Regions from separate parts of the Homo sapiens genome. Here region 1 is linked to region 2. The links come from fine-mapping of genetic effects on gene expression. A gene starts in region 2. The other region holds a variant in brackets. All regions are shown on one strand. Distances are between the middles of the regions. Region 1 holds the start of MIR3170 (microRNA 3170). Region 2 holds the start of FARP1 (FERM, ARH/RhoGEF and pleckstrin domain protein 1).

What was found. PIP is the estimated chance that this variant, and not a neighbour inherited with it, causes the effect. A credible set is the group of variants that fine-mapping cannot tell apart.
Region 1: its variant is the best candidate, but not a certain one, in a credible set for the expression of FARP1 in fibroblasts (GTEx, PIP 0.56).

Annotation. Positions count from the first base shown.
Region 1 is chr13:98,206,974-98,209,871 of GRCh38, reverse strand. The region is part of intron 1 of FARP1 (FERM, ARH/RhoGEF and pleckstrin domain protein 1); the gene reads right to left. It overlaps MIR3170 (microRNA 3170), which reads right to left and starts at 1,348; the gene lies at 1,272-1,348. The variant T/G (reference allele first, on the strand shown) is at 1,565.
Region 2 is chr13:98,141,381-98,144,278 of GRCh38, reverse strand. FARP1 (FERM, ARH/RhoGEF and pleckstrin domain protein 1) reads right to left here and starts at 1,185. Exons shown (of 27, transcript NM_005766.4): 1 at 787-1,185. It overlaps LOC105370328 (a long non-coding RNA gene), which reads left to right and starts at 369. Exons shown (of 3, transcript XR_931670.4): 1 at 369-440. RefSeq lists silencers at 1,135-1,444, 1,685-1,734.

The DNA of each region.
Region 1 (2,898 bases), 66 kb before region 2:
TAGCTGGGATTACAGGCGTGCACCACCACCCCCGGCTTTTTCTTTTTTTTTTTTTTTTTTTTTTTTTTTTTTTTTGAGACACAGTTTTACTCTATTGCCCAGGCTGGAGTGCAATAGCAACATCTTGGCTCACTGCAACCTCTGTCTCCCAGGTTCAAGCGATTCTCCTGCCTCAGCATCCCGAGTAGCTGGGATCACAGGCGCACACCACCACACCCAGCTAATTGTTGTATTTTTAGTAGAGACAGGGTTTCACCATGTTGGCTAGGCTGGTCTTGAACTCCTGACCTCAAGTAATCCACCCGCCTCAGCCTCCCAAAGTGCTGGGATTACAGGCGTGACCCACCGTGCCCAGCCAACAAAGTTATTTTCCTTAAAAAAAAAAAAAAAAAAAAAAAATCTTTCCTCCCCAGATAGTCTGTCTCCTGATCCCTCAGCTTCTCCCTCCCCTCCCGCTGCCTCTGTCTGCCTCCAGGTCTCCACACGTGGCTCACTGTGGCTCAGCACTTTGCCCTCTTTCTTCACCTGGAAACTTCTACCACTGCTTTAAAACTCAGGAAAGTTGGCTGGGCGCGGTGGCTCACGCCTGTAATCCCAGCACTTTGGGAGGCCAAGGCGGGTGGATCACGAGGTCAGGAGATCGAGACCATCCTGGACAACACGGCGAAACCCTGTCTCTACTAAAAATACAAAAAATTAGCCGGGCATGGTGGTGGGCGCCTATAGTCCCAGCTACTCGGGAGGCTGAGGCAGGAGAATGGCGTGAACCCGGGAGGCGGAGCTTACAGTGAGCCGAGATCGTGCCACTGCACTCCAGCCTGGGTGACAGAGCAAGACTCTGTCTCAAATACAAAAACAAACAAACAAAACTCAGGAAAGTGTTAAAGCCTTCTCTTCAGGAAAACCATCCGGTTTCCAAATCTCATTTTGTAGAGTTTTCTTCCCTAACTCATTCTCAGCCTTTTCCTTAAGAGTAGGTCCCCAGAAGTTTCCTAATGAATTCCTTACTTCCTCTGCAATGAAACCTCTAATGCTGTCACCATAGACACAAGGGCTGGCCCTGAGGTCAGCAAATCAGAAACTATGGGATCACATCCACAGCGACTCAAATCACCAGGGCCTAAAAGGGCGTGTCCTTCCATCGAACATGTCTAGGAAACACCTGATCACTGTCTAGGAAACACCATTTACTCCTGACTTCTCCCACACTCACCTTCCTCACCTACGGTCCATCAAAGCCTTTTGAAGATTTTATTCACTCCTTATGTCGTCTGGTAACATAGGGGTTCTAAGACAGGCAATGCTTCTGGAGCTAACACTGTCTGTCTCAGAACCCCAGTGTTACCAGATGACATATGGAGTGAAGATCTGAGAACTGCTTTTTTTTTTTTTTTGAGATGGAGTCTTGTTCTGTCACCCAGGCTGGAGTGCAATGGCGCAATCTCGGCTCACTGCAACCTCTGCCTTCCAGGTTCAAGCGATTCTCCTGCCTCAACCTCCCCAGTAGCTGGGATTACAGATGCCCACCACCATGCCCGGCTTTTTTTTTTTTTTTTCTCCCCAG[T/G]AGAGATGGGGTTTCACCATGTTGGCTAGGCTGGTCTTGAACTCCTGACTTCAAATGATCCAAGTGCTGGGATTACAGGAGTTAGCCACCACGCTGGCCCCTTCTTTTTTGAATGCCTGATTCCACAGGTCTGTTATATAAGTGCCTTTCTCACTTCTGCCTCAAATAAGCTTTTTCTAAGCATCTGTTTCTAATCTGTTTGGTTGTGTGATCTCTGCTTTGGTTCATTCACTCATTAGCCTTGAGAGATGAGACCAGCCTGGTTAATCTAGAATCCCAGCCTAGTGCCCTTCACCGAAGTGGAAGAGAGATCCTCAATACTGGGCCAATGAATCAAAGTGTGTGTGTGTGTGTGTGTGTGTGTGTGTGTGTGTGTGTGTGTGTGTGTGTGTGTGTGTGGAGGTGGTGGTCGGGGAGCAGTATATTCATTATGAAGTCAGTTGTGTCCAAAATAATCTTCACAAGCCAGGCAAAATTACTTCTATTCCATATATGTTTTCTGTTCACTGTCTCATGGTTAAAAATAAATGCAATCTCCAGAGAAAACTATGCCATCAGTCAAGTTGGCCTTCCCCATTCCCAGCCCCTCCATGCACTTTTCGTACTTTGGTGTGGCCCCTCCCCCACCCCACCCCTTCTGCCCTGCACTTGCTCAGCAGGGACAGGCCCTGTGCACGGTAATTCACACTGGGCTATAGCTGGGCTTGTCACTCTGAGTCAAGCAGGCATGGACCTGGCTATGGTGTTGATGCCCATCCAGGGAGCCGATGACGGCAGGAAGGAAGGGCTCTACTCTCCCACCTCACCCCAGCCTAAAGGTGCTCAGACCCTCCCTGCAGATATCTTCTCCTTGTCCTACCTAAGCAAAAAGCAAGACTCCTCATCCTCTGAACTGAATCCTTTCTCTCCCTCTTGCCCAAAATCCCCAGATAAATATATATTCTAATTTTTAGCACCTTGGCATTTAAAAATTTAATTGAGTTAGTCATTAACAGATACTTGGTAGCTTAACTTCCTTTCTCTTTAGTTCTCAAATGATCTCATGTCTAGGTTATTTCTACTTCTGGATACTGATGCTTGAACAAAGTATGTCATACTTTCTCTCTGTTATCATACTTGCATGCAGACTGTTGCTGTACATGGAAAAGTCTGTTTAATTCAATCATAAATCCAGCCAAGAGTTTTGAGTTGAGCATCCTAAGAACGCTAAGGGAACATCTCAGGAACGCTGGCAAGTCATAAATGGGTAACCACAGTTGATGCTTGATAGCAAAACTGGTAAGCCCAGTAATAAAATGCCGTCTTCCAGATAAACAAATCCAACAAACCGAAAG
Region 2 (2,898 bases):
ACGAGATCCAGACTCATTACAGGGAATTCGTATTTCCCCCCCTCAAATAAAACACACACACACACACACACACACAGAGTCTCCGGGGTCCAGCCGGATCACACAGCTAAAGTTTCCGGAACTTGAATCGTAAAACCACAATCAGAAGTTGTTTGGAAATACTCGCCGCAAAGCAATCTGTCCTTTGCTTTAAAAAATAAAAAATAAAAAAAACTTTGCCCTGCATAAAGGCAGACAGTAAAGAGAGACACAAATCTAACTTGGGCAGAGGGTGTGTTCCTCTTTGTCACCCGCCGGGAACCCTCGCGCCGCGCGTGGGCGAGCGGCGGGCACCCGGCGGCATCCGCGCCAGCGGCCACCTCCCCGGCCCGCAACCGGCCTCAGGGGCCGAGATTGCGGCCCGAGGTCCGGAAGCGGCGTCCAGCGCTGTCAGCGGGCGGGTAGGACGGAAGGAAACGGGGGAAGGGCGCCGGGGTCGGGGGAGGCGAGCGGGGACCGGCGCGGAGCCCCGCAGCCCGACGTCGGCGGAGGTGAGGGGAGAGGGGCGCAGGGGGCAGCCCGGAGCCCCGAGGCCCCCGAGCTCCTGCGATGGTGGCCGGGGCTGCCCGGGCCCGACCCGCCGCCCGACTGCGCAGGGCAGGACCTCGGGGACCACGCGCCCACCTTCGCCCGCAGCCGCGGCCGTGCGCTGCGGGAGCCTGGACTCGCACAAGTTGCCGCCCGCGGCCCGGACCCCGCCGGCCCCCGCCCTCCCGCCGCGGTCATTGTTCACCGCGCGCCTCCTACCTCCACAGCGCCGGCGGCTGCGGCGGCTCCCTCTCCCGGCTCGGGCTCCGGGATCGGCGGCTCCCAAGCCCCCGGCGGCCGAGGGCGCGGCGGCGCCGGCTATTAATACCCGCGGGCGGCGGCGGCGCGGGCGCGCGAGCAGGGCTGGCGGTGGCCGGCTGAGGTCCGAGCCATCAAAGGTGGCGCGGGGCGGAGGGGAGGGCGGAGCAGGCGGGGTGGGTGGGGAGCGGGCTCCGGGTCGCCATGGCCGCCTCGACGCCGGGGCCAGCGCTACTCGCGCAGGGAGGAGCGGCGCAAAGCGGGCAGCGGCCGCGTCCCCGCCCCGCGCCCCAGCCGAGCGCCCGCACCGCTGCGCCCGCGCCGGACCCGCCGCCTCTGAGGCCGGCGAGCGGGAAGTGCAGTGGCCACCGCCCCTCCCCGGGTCTGGGCCGGCCCCTCGGCGGGGGGAGGCGGGCGCCGCGCAGCCCGAGCAGCGGGGACGCGGGAGAGCCACAGCCCCCTCCAGCGTCCGGGCCCGCGCCCTGCGCCCGCCCCGCCCCGCTCCGCTCCGCCCGGGCAGGTGCGCCCAGGGGCCTCCCGAGCCCAGCGCGCCGCCGGGGATCTGCGCCTCTCTTGGGCTTCCGGCCAGGGCCGGGCTCCGCGCGGCGCTACCTAATGCAGCGCGGGGAGCGCCACTGGCGAGACGCGAATCCAGCAGCTGTGGCGAAAAACGAACCGGGGAGAGCGGGAGACGTGTGCACGGCGAAGCCGGGAGCGGCAGGCGGGCGGTCAGGGGCTCGGACTCTGCAGGTCGCTTTTTGAGGTCCTGCCTGGGGCTGCTTCGCCTGCGACGTCGCGCGGGGAGGACAGTCTTCAGGGACCCACCGAGCCCTCCCCTCCCCCGGAGCCACAGGCACGGGCTTCCGGCACCACCCCGGGCTGCGCGGGACTTAAGCTTGGGGGAGCGGCGGCCACCCCGCGCCCGCCCACGTCCTGGCCCAGCGCCCTCCGCCCGAGCGAATCCCATGACAGTTCCCGCCCGCCCAGCCTCGGGGGACAGTGCCCTTGGGGAATGGCGTGGGGGAGGTTAGGAGTGGCTTGCGGTGCTTGAGAGCCTTCGGGGTTTCGGGAACTCTACGGAGCGGGGAGCAAGATTCAGGACCCAGGAGGCAGCGATCTAGGGGCACAGTCACCGTCCCCACCCAGCAGCTGCCGCGTTACCTTCTCTTCCCCCTTCTGAGCCTCCAGTCCCTCTCTCTAAGCGTGGCGGGAAGAGGCCTAGGGCGCAGCAAGTGACGTTCTGCCAGACCCGGGGCTAGCGGATTCCGGCCTTCGGAGGCCACTGGCTCAGAACCGTGGGCCTTTTGCGTCTTACAGGAGTTCCCTGACCTCAGACCGAGAGGGCAGATTTCACGGGAGAGGCCTCAAGTGAACTCACAGCTGGACAGGAGCTGGGCAGAAGTGGAGTGTAGGGACCCTGATAGAAGGGCGGGTTGAGACAAGAACAGGGGTCTTGGAAGTAGGGGGTGCTTGTGGGCAGCTCCTGGGGAGGAGCAGAGATGTAATACTTGCAGATTTGGTGGTCTGTGGTTGAAGAGAAGAAATGGTGGGTTTGAGGCTTTGCTCTGTCAGCCCAACCAGCTGTGTGTCACAGATCAGATTTTTTTCTGCTCGTGATTCTCTAAGTGTGGTTCTCAGACCACGACCACCACCAGCAGCCCCTGGAAACGTCAAGAAATGAACATTCTTGGGCCGCATCCCCGACCTACCTAATGAAACCTTAGCAAGCATCTGAATCGCCTGCAGGGATAAAGGACTGTCAGGCTCCATCCCCAGAGCTGCCGATTCAGTAGGTTTGGGGTGGGGCCTGAGAGTTTGCATTTCTAACAAATTCCCAGATAGTGATGTTGCTCTGGTCCTGGGATCACACTTGGAGGATCACAGTGTTAGGACAGTGGGTCTCAAACTCATGGAATCATCTGCGATTAAAAAACAACACCCTGGTTGCACCCCAGCCAAATATATAAAGATTCTAACCCAGGCATCAGTAAAGTTCCGCAGGTGATTCCAGTGTGTAGCCAGGTTTGAGAACAGTTGCTGTAGGCGGCTTTTTAAACTCTAGTGTATACCTGA